2 separate regions of the Homo sapiens genome follow, and region 1 is linked to region 2. The links come from fine-mapping of genetic effects on gene expression. Tissue or cell type: skeletal muscle. Region 2 holds a variant in brackets; the other region holds the start of a gene. All regions are shown on one strand. Distances are from middle to middle. Region 1 holds the start of FARP1 (FERM, ARH/RhoGEF and pleckstrin domain protein 1). Region 2 overlaps FARP1 (FERM, ARH/RhoGEF and pleckstrin domain protein 1).

Region 1 (9,642 bases), 39 kb after region 2:
TTTCTCCATGTTGGTCAGGCTGGTCTTGAACTCCTGACCTCAGATGATTCGCCCGCCTTGGCCTCCCTAAGTGCTGGGGTTACAGGCGTGAGCCACCGCACCTTATTGTCTTTTTTTTTGAAAAGGAACCTCTGTCTTTTTACAATCTGACTTAGCTTTAAGGATTCAATTGCTAAATTAGAATGAAATGAAAACAAAATCAAATATCAAACTGCCAGAACTGCAATCTATCAATTCTAATAACAAGTTTCCTTTAAAAACCCTAAAGACTAATTTGAAGGGATGGTAAAAACTGGATTTATTATTCATTCAACAAGGATTTACCAGACTGGGCAACATAGCGGTGAGACTCTCTAAGAAAAATTTTTTTAAAGAAAAAATTAGCTGGGCGTGATGGCATGTGTCTGTAGTCACAGCTACTCGGGAGACTGAGATGAAAGGATTGCTTGAGCCCAAGAGGTCAAGGCTGCAATGAGCCATGATCACCACTGCACTCCAGCCTCGAGTTTTTTTCAAAAAGAAAACAGAACACAATAATTTACCAAGGGTTTGCTATATTCAGATACTATACTAGATCCTGAATGAACAAGAACAAAAACTGAAAGTCATCATAATACTGGATTTTTAAGTCTTCTAATTGATAATAAATTTATGCAAAGCATTTCGTCAAAAGTCTGCACATAAAGTGAAGTTACTCTTGTGGTCAGAGGTTATTATCATAATTGAGAGTTAAAGGCAGTCTAGTGTGGCCTGAGGCTCTTCTTTTTTTTAATGTGTGAACAAATATGACAGTTTTACATATGAAATTCATTCAGTGTAAATGATGAATTCCCACATTAATTGCAAGTCTTGAAGTTCATAATTTCCATCCCACATTAAACTAAGAAAACTTAAAATCTGAGTTAACAGTTTGCAGGCAGCACTGAGCATGCCTCAGTTTCAGTCTCGCCGGATTAGTATCAAAAGCTTCGAGCATGATATTTTAGTAATGTATCCATTATCCACTTTTGCTCAAAGTATCCACTTGGCCAAACATTTTTAACTAATTCAAACCAGGGCAAGGGCATCCTATAAAAAGTTTTGCCAGTTTTAAATACACGTTTTCTGGGGGCTTCTTGATTGAAAACAAAGGCTGCATTTGGCAGAACAGGACTGGAGAAATCAGTATTTCAAGTAATTTGAATGAAAACCGTTTGGCTCTGATCTTCCTGGCCATGTGGAAGTGGTTAAGGAGGTAACAGCCTACCTAAGTTGCCATGGGTGAAACAGAGAGAAAGGACTGTGACCCAGTACCACCACAGAATAAACTCTGACACTAAAAGACAAGAAAAGAAGTTGATCCGCTGCTTCCCATTCAATAGCCAGGCTTGGAGAGGCTCCTTTCAATCAAAAGCACCAAACAACAGGAGAGAGACTGCCACGAGAGCCTAAAACCCCACAGCCTCCCTTCCCAGGCAAACGGTAACCAATACAGGGAATGCCTGTCCTTCCAAAGTAGAAAGACTTTAGCACCTGCATTACAGGACTATACCTGCCCCTCTTATCTGTAGCACCTTCAGCTGGTGAGGAAAGTGCATTTCTCAAAAACACTAAGCAGTTATCTGCAATAAGCAAGGCCAGTTACAAAGGGCTTCTTTAAAATGTCCAGTCCACCATGCTATCAAAACATCAGGCAAGGCCAGGCTCTGTGACTCACGCCTGTAATCCCAGCACTTTGAGAGGCCGAAGCGGGCAAATCACCTGAGGTCAGGAGTTCAAGACCAGCCTGACCAACATGGAGAAACCCCGTCTCTACTAAAAACAGAAAATTAGTTGGGCATGGCGGCAAATGCCTGTAATCCCAGCTACTGGGGAGGCTGAGGCAGGAGAATCGCTTGAACCTGGGAGGCAGAGGTTTCAGTGAGCCGAGATTGCGCCATTGCACTCCAGCCTGGGAAACAAGAGCAAAACTCCATCTCAAAAAAAAAAATCAGGCAAGTACAGTACTTACAAATCCACAGAATTTCTCTTATCCTCTGGGAAAATCACAATGCCATTTTTCCTAAGCATATTCTGCCTGCAGAAACCAGCCTTTTATCCTTTCTCTAGTATTCTCTAATCCCGTCCAGGATGAAAAGAGTTGTTTTTTTCTGATGTTTATCACAAGCATCCTCCTCATAAATATATACAATTTTCCAAATGAATTAAGCTCTTAGGTGTTCAATAAATTAAATGAGTATAAGCTTCACTGTTTAAAAAAAACTAACCCTTTCAATGCTATCTTATTTGTATCTTTAACCAAAAAACAAAACAAAACAATTTCCTTGGGCAGTTCCTTTTTTCTCTTTTTTTTTTTTTTTTTTGAGACAGAGTCTCACTCTGTTGCCCAGGCTGGAGTGCAGTGGCCCAATCTCAACTCACTACAACCTCCGCCTCCTGGGTTCAGGCGATTCTCCTGGCTTAGCCTCTGAGCAGCTGGGATTACAGGCACCTGCTACCACCCCTGGCTAATTTTTGTATTTTTAGTAGAGACAGGGTTTCACCATATTAGCCAGGCTGGGAAATCCTGATCTCAAGTGATCCGCCTCGGTCTCCCAAAGTGCTGGGATTACAGGTGTGAGCCACCATGCCCAGCCCCCTTGGACAGTTTCTTTAACGAAAAGTGAAACAAAAACGTTCCTCCAGGTTCCTTGTAAACTCTGGATAATTCTGAGGTGAATGCAATAACCCAGTAAGAAACTTGTCCAGGATAATTATTTTAAGATCTTCTTTGATAAGTCTGGCTACAGAGTAAAGTTAACATTCTATTATGAAGCAAGGAATAAATCCATCCCTGTATCAATTAAAGGAAGAGAATATCAATGTGAAAGGGGGCATTAGAAACCACGCTTCAAAAGGATTCCCACAGTGACAGAACTTCTCAATGAAACACCACACCCCAAGTAACGGGGGCGGGGTGGTGCACCATAGAATCTGCCCCTAGGAGGCACAGCCACCTCCACACCGAGGGTTTCCAGTTTCCCATTCACATAAAAGAAACAAGTAAGAGATTCTGGGAGGCGCTGGGCTAGGAAGGCATCTACTCACTGTCTCCACCAACAATTCCCTCAGTAAAGCAGCCATTGCCCAATAATGCTTCTATTTATTTTACCCAGAAGCAGATCTATTAGCCAGACATTCTAAAAACACAAACGCTTCGTTGTGCTTGGAGTAACTCCAATATTGATGCCTTGCTGCAGAACGATGCTGCAGGAATATAAAGTGAGCCATGTGCTAGCTGTACCCACTTATGAAGCACACTGTCAGAAACTGTCACATCCTGGAGACCAACCCATCCGAAAGACTGAGAATAAACCCCCTACGAGAACACTGTGGAAGGAGGGAGAAAGCCAAAGATAGGATGAAGCAGGGCCCTCCTAAAGTCTCCGGAACAACGAAGCCAATTTTTAAGGCAACTCTCCCTAAAGCTTTCAGGACCAGAAAGATGTTTCTTTCTCCTCTCCTTGTTCAGACTGAATAAGAAAAGCAAGACAATGCTGGAGGATGTTCTGAAATGGGCTCCGCAAGTCACCACGTGCAAAGCACATTAAACAGAAGCCAGTGCTAGGCCAGGGTTTGGCTCTGAAGATGTTGCCTACTGGAAGGAGAGGGGCCCCCGGGGGTTTCCACGCAGAGACCAGGGCTGGGCGGTCAAACCTGGTAAACTGACAAGGAGAAGAGCCTTAACAACAATATAATGAAACGGCCAGAGGCCACCGGTACTCCCCAGGGCTGGGAGAGACAGGGAGGCCGAGGCTGCTAAACTGTTCCAGATGACAAGCAGGCTCTCCCACGTCTCCACGAACTGATCAGATACCAGGGCCTCGCTTCTTTGTGAGCCTCAGCTCCCTCCTTTCTGGGGAACCCTACTCGATCCCCAACAGCCGCTGGCCTCCAGCTGCCACAAACGAGATCCAGACTCATTACAGGGAATTCGTATTTCCCCCCCTCAAATAAAACACACACACACACACACACACACAGAGTCTCCGGGGTCCAGCCGGATCACACAGCTAAAGTTTCCGGAACTTGAATCGTAAAACCACAATCAGAAGTTGTTTGGAAATACTCGCCGCAAAGCAATCTGTCCTTTGCTTTAAAAAATAAAAAATAAAAAAAACTTTGCCCTGCATAAAGGCAGACAGTAAAGAGAGACACAAATCTAACTTGGGCAGAGGGTGTGTTCCTCTTTGTCACCCGCCGGGAACCCTCGCGCCGCGCGTGGGCGAGCGGCGGGCACCCGGCGGCATCCGCGCCAGCGGCCACCTCCCCGGCCCGCAACCGGCCTCAGGGGCCGAGATTGCGGCCCGAGGTCCGGAAGCGGCGTCCAGCGCTGTCAGCGGGCGGGTAGGACGGAAGGAAACGGGGGAAGGGCGCCGGGGTCGGGGGAGGCGAGCGGGGACCGGCGCGGAGCCCCGCAGCCCGACGTCGGCGGAGGTGAGGGGAGAGGGGCGCAGGGGGCAGCCCGGAGCCCCGAGGCCCCCGAGCTCCTGCGATGGTGGCCGGGGCTGCCCGGGCCCGACCCGCCGCCCGACTGCGCAGGGCAGGACCTCGGGGACCACGCGCCCACCTTCGCCCGCAGCCGCGGCCGTGCGCTGCGGGAGCCTGGACTCGCACAAGTTGCCGCCCGCGGCCCGGACCCCGCCGGCCCCCGCCCTCCCGCCGCGGTCATTGTTCACCGCGCGCCTCCTACCTCCACAGCGCCGGCGGCTGCGGCGGCTCCCTCTCCCGGCTCGGGCTCCGGGATCGGCGGCTCCCAAGCCCCCGGCGGCCGAGGGCGCGGCGGCGCCGGCTATTAATACCCGCGGGCGGCGGCGGCGCGGGCGCGCGAGCAGGGCTGGCGGTGGCCGGCTGAGGTCCGAGCCATCAAAGGTGGCGCGGGGCGGAGGGGAGGGCGGAGCAGGCGGGGTGGGTGGGGAGCGGGCTCCGGGTCGCCATGGCCGCCTCGACGCCGGGGCCAGCGCTACTCGCGCAGGGAGGAGCGGCGCAAAGCGGGCAGCGGCCGCGTCCCCGCCCCGCGCCCCAGCCGAGCGCCCGCACCGCTGCGCCCGCGCCGGACCCGCCGCCTCTGAGGCCGGCGAGCGGGAAGTGCAGTGGCCACCGCCCCTCCCCGGGTCTGGGCCGGCCCCTCGGCGGGGGGAGGCGGGCGCCGCGCAGCCCGAGCAGCGGGGACGCGGGAGAGCCACAGCCCCCTCCAGCGTCCGGGCCCGCGCCCTGCGCCCGCCCCGCCCCGCTCCGCTCCGCCCGGGCAGGTGCGCCCAGGGGCCTCCCGAGCCCAGCGCGCCGCCGGGGATCTGCGCCTCTCTTGGGCTTCCGGCCAGGGCCGGGCTCCGCGCGGCGCTACCTAATGCAGCGCGGGGAGCGCCACTGGCGAGACGCGAATCCAGCAGCTGTGGCGAAAAACGAACCGGGGAGAGCGGGAGACGTGTGCACGGCGAAGCCGGGAGCGGCAGGCGGGCGGTCAGGGGCTCGGACTCTGCAGGTCGCTTTTTGAGGTCCTGCCTGGGGCTGCTTCGCCTGCGACGTCGCGCGGGGAGGACAGTCTTCAGGGACCCACCGAGCCCTCCCCTCCCCCGGAGCCACAGGCACGGGCTTCCGGCACCACCCCGGGCTGCGCGGGACTTAAGCTTGGGGGAGCGGCGGCCACCCCGCGCCCGCCCACGTCCTGGCCCAGCGCCCTCCGCCCGAGCGAATCCCATGACAGTTCCCGCCCGCCCAGCCTCGGGGGACAGTGCCCTTGGGGAATGGCGTGGGGGAGGTTAGGAGTGGCTTGCGGTGCTTGAGAGCCTTCGGGGTTTCGGGAACTCTACGGAGCGGGGAGCAAGATTCAGGACCCAGGAGGCAGCGATCTAGGGGCACAGTCACCGTCCCCACCCAGCAGCTGCCGCGTTACCTTCTCTTCCCCCTTCTGAGCCTCCAGTCCCTCTCTCTAAGCGTGGCGGGAAGAGGCCTAGGGCGCAGCAAGTGACGTTCTGCCAGACCCGGGGCTAGCGGATTCCGGCCTTCGGAGGCCACTGGCTCAGAACCGTGGGCCTTTTGCGTCTTACAGGAGTTCCCTGACCTCAGACCGAGAGGGCAGATTTCACGGGAGAGGCCTCAAGTGAACTCACAGCTGGACAGGAGCTGGGCAGAAGTGGAGTGTAGGGACCCTGATAGAAGGGCGGGTTGAGACAAGAACAGGGGTCTTGGAAGTAGGGGGTGCTTGTGGGCAGCTCCTGGGGAGGAGCAGAGATGTAATACTTGCAGATTTGGTGGTCTGTGGTTGAAGAGAAGAAATGGTGGGTTTGAGGCTTTGCTCTGTCAGCCCAACCAGCTGTGTGTCACAGATCAGATTTTTTTCTGCTCGTGATTCTCTAAGTGTGGTTCTCAGACCACGACCACCACCAGCAGCCCCTGGAAACGTCAAGAAATGAACATTCTTGGGCCGCATCCCCGACCTACCTAATGAAACCTTAGCAAGCATCTGAATCGCCTGCAGGGATAAAGGACTGTCAGGCTCCATCCCCAGAGCTGCCGATTCAGTAGGTTTGGGGTGGGGCCTGAGAGTTTGCATTTCTAACAAATTCCCAGATAGTGATGTTGCTCTGGTCCTGGGATCACACTTGGAGGATCACAGTGTTAGGACAGTGGGTCTCAAACTCATGGAATCATCTGCGATTAAAAAACAACACCCTGGTTGCACCCCAGCCAAATATATAAAGATTCTAACCCAGGCATCAGTAAAGTTCCGCAGGTGATTCCAGTGTGTAGCCAGGTTTGAGAACAGTTGCTGTAGGCGGCTTTTTAAACTCTAGTGTATACCTGAATCACCAGGGAATCTTGTTGGAATGCAGATTCTGATTCAGTAAGTCTGAGACTGTTTCTAACAAGCTCTCAGGTGTTACTTGCTGGTCCAAGGACTACACGTAGTAGCAAAGTGCTATGTCATACCTCCCAACTAAAAGGAAAAAATTAGGCCGGGCGCGGTGGCTCACTCCTGTAATCCCAATACTTTGGGAGGCTGAGGCAGGTGGATCACCTGAGGTCAGGAACTTGTAAACCAGCCTGGCCAGCATGGGGAAACCTCGTCTCTACTGAAAATACAAAAATTAGCTGGGCGTGGTGGTGCGCGCCTGCAATCCCAGCTACTCGGGAGGCTGAGGCATGAGAATTGCTTGAACCCGGGAGGCAGAGGTTGCAGTGAGCCGAGATCGTGCCATTGCACTCCAGCCTGGGCAACAAAGTGAGACTCCATCTCAAAAAAAAAATCATAAAAATAATAAAAGCAAAAAATCATAGAAAGCGCAGAAAATTAGAAAAGTGACATTTTCCCAGTCACTCTCTTTGCAAGACCGACATTTTCTACATGTTACAGCATTTCTTTCATAGTCTTTGTATGTCTAGAATTAGATTTAGTTGTGATCTTAAAACTATTTATGATCATAACACATAATATATTGATCATATTAATCAATATGATAATACATAATATCCCATGTTGCCTTATCTCAACATTATCAACATTTGTGAAGGTGACTTTTAAAGGAGCCGTTCTGAGGTTTGCAGGCTGAGGGCAGGAGCCCATGGGGAGAGAGTTAATGGGGGAAAAGAGAGGGGAGAAGGGGCAGTTCTGGGAATCTAGTTAGAGAGGCTGTAAAGCGGTGGGGTCACACTAGAGAACTTCCTACGTTTCCTCCCAGCTCTCACCAACATTCCGCGGTTGGTACCTAACCTGATAGAAAGTACTGTTTCTTTTAAGAGAGGGTCTTGGCTGGGCGCTGTGGCTCAAGCCTGTAATCCCAGCACTTTGGGAGGCCAAGGCAGGCAGATCACGAGGTCAGGAGATCAAGACCATCCTGGCTAACACGGTGAAACCCCGTCTCTACTAAAAATACAAAAAATTAGCCAGGCATGGTGGCCGGCGCCTGTAGTCCTATCTACTTGGGAGGCTGAGGCAGGAGAATGGCGTGAACCCGGGAGGCAGAGCGTGCAGTGAGCCGAGACCACACCACTGCATTCCAACCCGGGCGACAGAGCGAGACTCCGTCTCAAGAAAGAAAAAAAAAGGAGTCTCGCTCTGTTGCCCAGGCTGGAGTGCAGTGGCACAAACATAGCTCACTGCAGCCTCGAACTCCTAGGCTCAAGTGATCCCCCTGCCTTGGCCTTCCAAAGTTCTGGGATTACAGGCATAAGGCCATCGTGCCTGGCCAGAAAGCACTTTTTAAATTCCTCTCCCTGAAAAGCCAGGGGTACCTGGCCTCGAAAATCCTGAACCTGGAAAATCAACTTCTGAAAAACTTAGGCGTTTCCTTGTCATTGTGTGTCATTTATGCTTAACTTTCAGAATATAAAAATGTATAATCCCCCTAGATCCCCCTTTTATCCCAAGCTGTGGCATGGGTTATTTAGAAATCTTTCTGGATTAAGGAATCACCCTGTGCTTAACAATTCCTCTTATTAATTTTAACTGTTTTACTGTAAAACGTGTGTACATGTCAAGATAAAATTAAGCAGTATAGAAGAGTATGAAGTGAAACCTAGAAGGAACCCTTCCTGCATCCCTAATCTCGCTTCTTAGAAATAATTTTCCCAACAGTTTTTACAGTCTTTCAGGAATTTTCTGCTCATATACAAAAGTGTGTGGGGGCAAGCAAATCTTTCATATTAAGAGATCACACGTCACAGTGAAACACAACTTTTTATTCCATAGTTCCCTCCCCTTCAACACATCACCTTTCGGAGAACCTGGGTTTAGGGTGATGATGCTCTCTGGACGTGACAGTATGCACTGACAGTAACTGAGGCAGCCTGTATTAAAACCCAAGGCGGAAAGAGATCTGCTTGTAGCATTTGTGGTGGGCTCATTCTGTGTAATCCCCCTGCCTTGAGTGTGACCTAGTGACTCGCTGCTAATGGATAGAATACAGAAAAGGAAGGCAGTGTCACTTCTGTGATTAGGTCACAGAGCACTGTAACTTTTTTTTTTTTTAGACGGAGTCTCACTCTGTCGTCCAGGCTGGAGTGCAGTGGTGCAATCTCGGCTCACTGCAACCTCTGCCTCCTGGATTTAAGCAATTCTCTGCCTCAGCCTCCTGAGTAGCTGGGATTACAGGCGCGTGCCACCACACCCGGCTAATTTTTGTATTTTTAGTAGAGACGGGGTTTCACCATCTTGGCCAGGCTGGTCTTGAACTCCTGACCTCGTGATCCACCCGCCTCAGCCTCCCAAAGTGCTGGGATTACAGGCGTGAGCCACCGCGCCAGGCCCATAACTTCTTACTGATACGGTCTTGCCCTCTCATTTGCTCACTTTGATGAAGCCAGCTGCCATGTTGTAAGATGTCCTATGGAGGACCCACAGTGGCAAGGAACAGAGGGAAGCCTTACTCCAACAGCCCTGGAGGCACTGAATTCTGCCAACAACCATGTGATACACAAGTCCTTTCCAGCTGAGACTTGAAGTGATGTCAGTGTCATGAGGAACCCAAAGCCAGAGGACCCAACTAAGCAATTTCTAGAGTCTTAACCCATAGGAAGTATGAGATGATAAGTGTTCTTCTAAGCCACATTTTGGAATAACCTGTTTTGCAGCAATAGATAACACAGCATAATGTGGTAGGAGGAAGAATATTAGGATGAGCAGTT
Region 2 (9,642 bases):
GAGGAGGCTCACAGAAAGACATTCTACCTGCAAGGGAAGGGACATAAGTCAGTGCAATCATTTTGGAAAGATACATTAGTTTCCAGGTCAAAAAATAATGAATGAGCTGTAGAAAATGGAATGGCAATTCCTCAAAAAATTAAATATAGAATTGCCATACGATACAGTGATTCCACTTCTGGGTATAAACTCAAAAGAAATGGAAGGAGGGATTTGAACACATATATCTGTATGTGCACGTTAATGGCTTTTTTTTTTTTTTTTTTTTTTTTTTTGAGACAGAATCTCGCTCCATCTCCCAGGCTAGAGTGCAGTGGCGCGATCTTGGCTCACTGCAACCTCTAACTCCTGGGTTCAAGCAATTCTTACGCCTCAGCCTCCTGAGTAGCTGGGATTACAGGCACATGCCACCACGCCCAGCTAATTTTTGTATTTTTAGTAGAGATGGAGTTTCACCACGTTGGCCAGGCTACTCTTGAACTCCTGACCTCAACTGATCCACCCACCTCGACCTCCCAAAGTGCTGGGATTACAGGTGTGAGCCACCACGCCCGGCCCATATCATCTTTATTCACAACAGCCAAAACGTAGAAGCAACAAATAGATGGATAAACAAAACATGGGATATACATACAATGGATTATTACGCAGCCTTTAAAAAGAAGGAAATTCTGACGCATGCTACAACATGAAGCACGAAGAGATTATGCTAAGTGAAATTAGCCAGTCACAAAAGGATGACTACTGTATGATGCTCCTTACATGAGATATCCAGAACAGGGAAATTCAGACAGACAGAAAGTAGAAGAGTTACCAGGGGCAGGGGAGAGAGAGAAGAAAGATGGAAAATGTTCTGGAGCGCCAGGCGCGGTGGCTCACATCTGTAATCCCAGCACTTTGGGAGGTCGAGGTGGGTGGATCACCTGAAGTTGGGAGTTCAAGATCAGCCTGATCAACATGGAGAAACCCCATCTCTACTAAAAATACAAAAAGTTAGCCAGGCGTGGTGGCTCATGCCTGTAATCCCAGCTACTCAGGAGGCTGAGGCAGGAGAATCGCTTGAACCAGGGAGGCAGAGGTTGCGGTGAGCCAAGATCGTGCCATTGCACTCCAGCCAGCCTGGGCAACAAGAGCGAAACTCCGTTTCAAAAAAAAAGAAAAGAAAAAGAAAACGTTCTGCAGATAGATGATGGTGATGGTGGCACAATAATGTGAGTGCACTGAATACCACTGTGCTGCATGCTTGAAAATGATCAAAACAGTAAATGTGGCCGGACGCGGTGGCTCACGCCTATAATCTCAGCACTTTGGGAGGCCGAGGCAGGCGGATCACCTGAGGTCAGGAGTTCGAGACCAGCCTAGTCAACATGGAAAAACCCTGTCTCTACTAAAATTACAAAAATTAGCCGGGCATGGTGGCACGCACCTATAATCCCAGCTACTTGGGAGGCTGAGGCAGGAAAACTGCTTGAACCCAGGAGGCGGAGGTTGCAGTGAGCTGAGATCGTGCCACTGCATTCCAGCCTGGGCGACAGAGAGAGACTCCATCTCAAAAAAACAAACAAACAAACCCATCAAATTTTATGCATATTTTACCACCACAGCCAAAAAAAAAAAAAACTAATTATCAGAATCAAAATCACCTGGTATGTGTTAAAAGGTTTCTAAAGGAACCTATGCTGCTTCCCAGGAATGGTATCAAGAAAGGTAGCATCCCATTTCGAATGCCAAGAAAATTACATACTAAAGAGCAGAGCACTTGCTTATCTCCCCAAGTTTTCTATGGGTGTTCTGATCACGAGGAACCTTAAACAGAAAAGGAAGCCCCCCCAACATAAAGATCTAGGACAAAACGACACCTGAACCAACCATAGAGAGCTTTATCTTACCAATCCCAACGCCTGCATGCTTCACTTTCTTGACTTGCCCTGTTAAGCCCTTTCTAAAAATTCAAGGGCTCTTTCCAGCGGTATACTGCTTTTGTATCAACTCATGGGGACCTGCTGTTAAATTTTCAGGAATTTTTACCAGCCAGTTATTATATAAAGATATGGATTAAAATAAATTATATCAATATTTATTAAGCATAAATTTTACAGAAGTAATGAATACTCAAAAATCATCACTTCCCAATTATTTTACATTTTACTTTTATCTATCTGTGATTGTGAGGTTATTTTGCCTGCTGCATCTGGATGGTAACAATACTACATAGGAATGTGCTACCACACACTTTTTCCTAACTCTGTGTGCAATGATGTCATGTTGGTAGCCTGCAACTGGCCATGGTGGAAATATTTACACCACGGAAACTGGCAAACTCTATGAATTAGAGTTTTGTTTTTGTTTTTCAAGAGAGCTGGTTGTGAAACTGGTTCTTCCCTGTTCAAAGTATCTTGTCAATAAAATTATGTATTTTAAAATACACTTGAAGTATTTGCCAAAAACATCAGAATGAATTTATTTTAATCCACAAAAGAGAGTAGACACGGTACTAGAAACAATCTTTTTAAAAACAAGTCCCTCACAAATTCTTAGAGCATAGGATCACTGAGAAAATGTAAAGGCTGTGGAGTTGGCCACTGCTATACACCATCACCAAAGGCGGAAGCAGGATGGACATTAGGAATCCAGGCAATCGCATTTTGGTATTTTTTTCCCTTCAAATATTTTTTAATGTAGAGTCGTACTTCCTTAAGAAGCAACAACAGGTGAATCACACTCCACATACTGTTTCATAAAGCACCTTTACATGTTAATATAGTATGAACAATTTTCCAAAAATCAAATAACCTCCTACATCCTTATTAGCACAGAACTTTAAAATGACACATTAAAATGACACATTAAAAGGCAGCCGGGCGTGGTGGCTCATGCCTGTAATCCCAGCACTTTGGGAGGCAGGTGGATCACCTGAAGTCACGAGTTCGAAAGCAGCCTGGCCAACACGGTGAAACCCCATCTCTACTAAAAATACAAAAATTAGCCGGGTGGGGTGGCAGGCGCCTACAATCCCAGCTTCTTGGGAGGCTGAGGCAGGAGAATCGCTTGAACCCAGAAGGCAGAGGTTGCAGTGAGCCGAGATCTCACCACCACTCTCCGGCCTGGGCAACAAGAGTGAAAACTCCATCTCAAAAAAAAACAAACAAAAAACAATGCTTGCTGGCTTTTTGAGTCTGACACTGCTCTCCCTTCTCAAGTATTTTAAAAGTTAAAATCTAACTGGGAAGGTGGAACTGAAGGAGAAACCATGTGGATGTCATTTTTAATACCTATGACCTGGCCTGGATTAACAAGGAAAGTGAGGGTGAAGAAAGGGCCTGGGGGAACAACCGCCATGCCCACCATATGTCAAGCCTCAGAGAGCCAGGGCGCTAAGGGGACTGGCTGTGAGAGAGACACACAAGCCTCCTAAAAGCCAAAAACCGAAGGAGGATCATTCTCAAGGTAAAAGAAATAACAATTGTTTGGAGGACAGTGGAGGCAGCGAGTATGAGCAGGTTTCACAACACTCCCCACCCCTGCCTTCCAGTCCTCAGCATACCCCACACCAGTTTTTGCGGCAAACAGCTCGGCCTCATTCAAAGATGAGCGACCACTGAATAAGAACACAGGCAAAGGCAGCTAATAAGGTGCGTTTGTAAAAATAATCAACAGAAGCTGCTGCATAACAAAAATGCAGTGCCCGCTGTTCAGAAATTATTAACAATTTCAAGACAATGACGGGAGCATTCGTCCAAGCGTGGACCCTTAAGTGGATGCAGAGGTCCCATGCCCAGGAATCTGGGCCTGAAAAACGAAGGTAACAGACTAAGAGCTCAGAAAAAATAGTCCTCCATTGTCTCAAAAATATTAAAGATAAAATGGTCCTTCTAAAAATGGGGAGCTCAGAGACTAGATATGAAGTTCCAAAGAACTGACAGTCATCAATCTAAGAGATTTTAAATGGACTGATAGAGTTGAAGAAATAAATGGACTAGAAAAAAAAATATCCAGAATGGAAGCCACACAACTACAGTAAAACATAGTGTAAGCTTCTGTAAACAGAGGCAGAGAACAAACAAGGAAATCACTCAAAATTACTAAAAAGGAACAACAAGAGGGACAAAGATACACAAATGATAATAAGAATAGATGCTAGATTTAGAAGGCAAAGAAGATAAAACCTAACAACTATGGTTCCCAAAAAGTGAGCACCATTCAAAATATATGCAAAAATATTAAAGGATCTTAAAATTTTACTGATATAAAGACAGACTTGAATCAACAGATATTATGGTATAGGACATACCAGGAAAGTGACATAAAACAGCCAATGCCCAAGCAATGCTGGTAAAACTCTAAACTTCAAAAAGAATCAGAGAACCTCATGGGCACATCCAATGGAAAAAGCTAGTCATGTGCAAAAGAAAGAAACATTAACCCAGCCTCAGCTTTCTCTTCCAGAAATATCCAGTGCTAAAAAAGAATGGGAGCAATGTCTAAG[A/G]AATTCTGAGGGCAAGAACGTGTGGCCCAAGACCTTGGTACTCGGCCAAATTGTCCTTCAAATATAAAAGCAAGGAACAGCTATCCTTAAGTGTTAAGACCTCAAGGAACACAGTACCTACCAGGGCTTCTCTAAATAAAATAATGTGGCTGGATGCGGCCACACTGGGTTTACCCCTGTAATCCCAGCACTTTGGAAGGCCAAGGCAGGTAGATCACTAAAGCCCGGGAGTTTGAGACCAGCCTGGGCAATATGGCGAGACTCAGTCTCTACAAAAAATACAAAAATCAGCCAGGTGTGGGGGCGTGTGCCTGTAAGTCCCAGCTACTCAGGAGGCTGAGATAGGAGGATCACTTGAGTCCAGGAGGGTGAGGCAGCAGTGAGCCATGATGGCACCACTGCACTCCAGCCTGGGCGACAGGGCAAGATCCTGTCTCAAAAAATAAAATCGATTAAATAAATAAAACAATGAACCAACCAATGAGTCAAAATTTAAAACTCAAGCAAGGTAAAAAAAAACAGTAAAAAGACTAACAAGTTCTGAATCCATCCTAAAAGGGGACTAAGTCAAAGAGCTATGGGAATTGTGGCATTATTAGAATAGAAATGTTACAATCCTTCACACTGTAAAATTCATAATTAACTGATAAAATTTTGGAGCTTGGGAAAGAGGGGGAGCATAGGTCAGTTCTATTTTTTTTTTAGCTTTCAAAGGAGAGAGTCTCACAAACTCATAGTTTATAAGAAATTATTCTAATCTCTTAGTATTTATTATTTATCATCTTGTCATAAATTTAGTTTCTAAAAGATAGCGCTAATCTCTCTTGCAATGAAGTCAGCATTTCTATCTTGCTTTAGTTTCTTTTCCTTTGCTTTAATTCAAGTCTATTTTATTTTACATCTTTAAGTATTAAATACCATGTGTGATAAGACCCCATGACCATGGCAAGTTCTAGACAGGGCTCAAAAAATGTTACCAACATCATTGGCCAGGCACAGTGGCTCATGTCTATAATCCCAGCACTTTGGGAGGCCAAGGCAGGAGGATCGCTTGAGCCTAGGAGTTTGAGGTTACACTGAACTGTGATTGCGCCACACACCCCTGGGCAACAGTGAGACTCTCTCTCTCTCTCTCTCAAATAAATAAATAAATAAATAAATAAATAAATAAATAAATAAATAATATTATTTCTAAATGGTAAGATTTAGGGTGAGGTTTTTCATTTCTTCTTTTTACTTTTTTGTATTTTTTTTATAATGAGAATGTATCACTTCTTCCCAAACAAGTCACTTTTTAATAATAAAGAACAATCTTTTCATTACTACCTAAGAAACTGACTTTATTGGTTTTGCTCTTCTCCATCGCTGCCAGCCAGGCAAAAATCTAAACTTAAGTCTATTCACTTATTATTCTTCCTCTTATACCCCACTTTGCAGGGGATAAAACTGAAATCCAGGGCAGTTAGGTCATTTGCTGTCGGTCACAGCGCCAGGATGTAACCTCAGACAGCCAAGCTACGTTAACATGTGAGCTGACAGAATTACTGAAGTTCATTTGGTTCATCCCAATTTTTTCCTTCACTTAGTAGGCATGTGTGGACCTAAACCAGCAGGGAGAAGTGCTATCTGCAATGAAACGGCCATACTCATGCATGTCTGGTGGATGTACATACAATACAACTCTTTCAGAAAGCAACAAGAGCAAAATTCTGTCTTAAAAAAAAAAAGACTTAAAAATGCTTAAACTCTGTAATTCTGTTTGTAGGAATCAACCCTAAGAAAACAAATGTAAACACAGGGAAAGGTATATAAATGAGGAAACACATAATCTAACAACAGAGTATTAGGACAATAAGGCATCATAGACTCATACAATTGATCATTATGCAGGCATTAAAATGCACATTATGGAGAAATACTAAGGAACAGGGGAAAATACTTATCAAGTGAAGACAGCCCACTACCATTCCTCATTCAACACAGCAGACTGCACTCAGGCATTCACCCCTATTCCCTCCCAAAATCCCACTAAAATGATAAACATTACTTTACAAAGGCAGATTCCCACAAAAGGAGCCAGAAGAAAGAGACACCAGAGAAAACAAGAACATCAATAATATTTTAGAAGAAATAAAGTGAGCTGAAAAATCTCAACTAACTTGGAAGAAGGCTGAAACTGAAGGCTGTGGAGGGAGATGACAAGCAGCAGCATGCCAATTTCAAGACAAATCCCAGGAACTGCAAGAATCAAGTATCACTGGAAACAGATATGGCTCCACACAAGAAGACTGGCTGAGAATCTGAAAATTTTCTGATACGGTTTGGATGTCTGTCCCCTCCAAATCTCATGTTGAAATGTGGTTAGTGTTGGAGGTAGGGCCTGGTGGGAGGTGACTGGATCATGGGGGTGGATGCCTCATGAGTGGTTTAGCACCATTTCCTGGGTGCTCACCCAGGGATCTTGTTCTGGTTGTTTAGAAGTACGTGGCCCCTCCCCACTCTCACTCCCACTCTTGCCATGTGACACAGCCTGCTCCCCCTTTGCCTTCCACTGTGATCAACTGGAAGTTTACTGGGGCCATCACCAGAAGCAGATACCAACGCCATGCTGCTTGTACAGCCTACAGAATTACAAGTCAATTAATCCTCTCTTCTTTATAAATTACCTAGCCTCAGGCATTCCTTTATAGCAATGCAAAACTAACACAATCTCCCACCCCATGCAGCCTTTCCCTAGCCTTTCCCTAGCCTGGCTACCCTTTCCCTAGCCCGGCAGAAGCAGGAGATATCTCTTCTGTGGAGGCTGAATCTAGGAGGGCCTAAGCTCAAAGGGCCCGGGAACAACCAAAGGTGGGAATCAGATGCTTTACTAAAAATGAGGAATTAAGTCAAAAGTTTTTTGTTTTGTTTTGTTTTGTTTTTTTGAGATGGAGTCTTGCTCAGTCACCCAGGCTGGAGTGCAGTGGCTTGATCTCGGCTCACTGTAAGCTCTGCCTCCCGGGTTCACGCCATTCTCCTGCCTCAGCCTTCCGAGTAGCTGGGGCTACAGGCACCCGCCACCACGCCCAGCTAATTTTTTTTTCTATTTTTAGTAGAGATGGGGTAGACCAGGATGGTCTCGATCTCCTGACCTCGTGATCCACCTGCCTCAGCCTCCCAAAGTGCTGGGATTATAGGTGTGAGCCACCATGCCAGGCCAAGTCAAAGTTTATACCCCAAATTATAAGGCCTTCCCTTCCCAGCCCACTTCTACAGCTCTTATCACAGAATTCTGGCAGCAAAGATCACACCCCACAGCGGAATGTGAGATAAGTCTTCTCTGTAGAAACTCGAGAACCCAGCAGAAAAGACCTATGGACACTGATATGGTTTGGCTATGTCCCCACCCAAATCTTGAATGGTAGCTCCCAAAATTCTCTTGTGTTGTGGGAGAGACCCAGTTACCAGAGATAACTGAATCATGGGGGCAGTTTCCCCCATACTGTTCTTGTGGTAGTGAATAAATCCCATGAGATCTGATGGTTTTATAAGGGCAAACCCCTTTCACTTGGTTCTCATTCTGTTCTCGTCTGCTGCCATGCGAGACATGCCTTTCACCTTCTACCATGGATTGTGAGACCTCCCTAGCCACATGGAAATGTAAGTCCATTAAGCCTTTTTCTTTTGTAAATTACCCAGTCTCAGGTGTGTCTTTATCAGCAGCGTGAAAACGGACTAATATGGACACCAACATCTGGGGGTCTCCAAGAAAAAAGATGGGTTCCAACTGAATCACACAAAGGACAGTCCAGTGTACAAGCCCAACAATACCGATGGATTCCAGCCAGCTTTTAGGCACCTCACTCTGAAGTATAAACAGCTGGAGATAACCAAGTATTTTAGAAAAGCTTCCAACATGAAAGATGGGATGATAACAGTTGAAGAAAAATCTAGAATTACTATCCTAAGAGAAAACTGACAAATGATGAATTGTTCTTTACACTGTAAGCTTATTCATCACATTTCCAACAGCTGAGGATGCCTTGGTGTCTAGGAAGAGAGACCCACACAACTTCTCCCTCATCCCACAGCAGCCAGTGTTTTGGGGGCACTACAAGTGAGCTGAATCTCATCTTCCATTCTAGTAAGTAAAGAGATAGAACCTAAATTAGAAAAAGAAATTGCATGTAACACTTTATGACATGCACTGGCTAAATAAGAACTAGAATCCATTTACATTATATAAATGAATTATTTCACAACTTGAAGATAAACTCAAGAAAAAAAAGGGTTAAAAATATTTGAAGGCGGGGTGCAGTGGCTCACGCCTGTAATACCAACATTTTAGGAGGCCAAGGTGGGTGGATCACCTGAGGTCAGGAGTTCCACACCAGCCTGGCCAACATGGTGAAACCCTGTCGCTACTAAAAACACAGAAGTTAGCTGGGTGTGGTGGCACACACCTGTAATCCCAGCTACTCAGGAGGCTGAGGCAGGAGAATTGCTTGAACCCGGGAGGCAGAGGTTGCAGTGAGCCGGGATCATGTAACTGCACTCCAGCCTGGGCGACAGAGCGAGACTCTTTCTCAAAAAAAAAAAAAAAAAAAAAAAATTAAAAATGATTATCTTAGGTACCAGGAATTGGCGTGTGGAGGGGCCAGGCAGGGGACAGCCAATTTCCATTACAATAAGTGCTTGATAATATTTTTTTAAATGTTTACATGTGTTACTTTTATTTCAAAATGAAAGCCAGCTACACACCCACAGGTGCAGTGTGATATGACAGTCTTTTAATAAAGGCTATATTAAAAGAATAGACACAAAAGTGTTGACAGTGGTTATCTTTGAGGGGAGGGATTATAGGCGTCTTACTTTTTGCTTGTATCTGTTTTTGTTTTCTGCACTGCGCGTGTGTTGCTTTTAAATACGCATTTCAAGCGCCTGTGTTTTAGGATGAGCACCACCGGTTCGCTATGGCCTGGAATGATTCCACCCGTGGCCTTTTAGGAATCTGTTGAAAAATGAGTGTGCACTGAGGGAGCTGAGGAGCAAGTGAAGATGACTCTCTCAAGGAATCCATCTGAGGGCCAGGAGGCAGGTCAAGGGAGGGAAGGGCGGGAGAAGCCTTTTTTTTTGGTTTTTTTTTTTTTAATTTGAGACAGGGTCTCGCTCTGTCA

The links. PIP is the estimated chance that this variant, and not a neighbour inherited with it, causes the effect.
Region 1: FARP1 starts here. The variant in region 2 is fine-mapped to the expression of FARP1 in skeletal muscle (GTEx, PIP 0.96).

The regions. Positions count from the first base shown.
Region 1 is chr13:98,138,562-98,148,203 of GRCh38, reverse strand. It overlaps FARP1 (FERM, ARH/RhoGEF and pleckstrin domain protein 1), which reads right to left and starts at 5,110. Exons shown (of 27, transcript NM_005766.4): 1 at 4,712-5,110. It overlaps LOC105370328 (a long non-coding RNA gene), which reads left to right and starts at 4,294. Exons shown (of 3, transcript XR_931670.4): 1 at 4,294-4,365. RefSeq lists silencers at 5,060-5,369, 5,610-5,659.
Region 2 is chr13:98,177,625-98,187,266 of GRCh38, reverse strand. All of the region lies in intron 1 of FARP1 (FERM, ARH/RhoGEF and pleckstrin domain protein 1), which reads right to left. Among named protein-coding and RNA genes, the nearest start is that of RNF113B, 5.2 kb to the right of the region's middle. The variant A/G (reference allele first, on the strand shown) is at 4,487.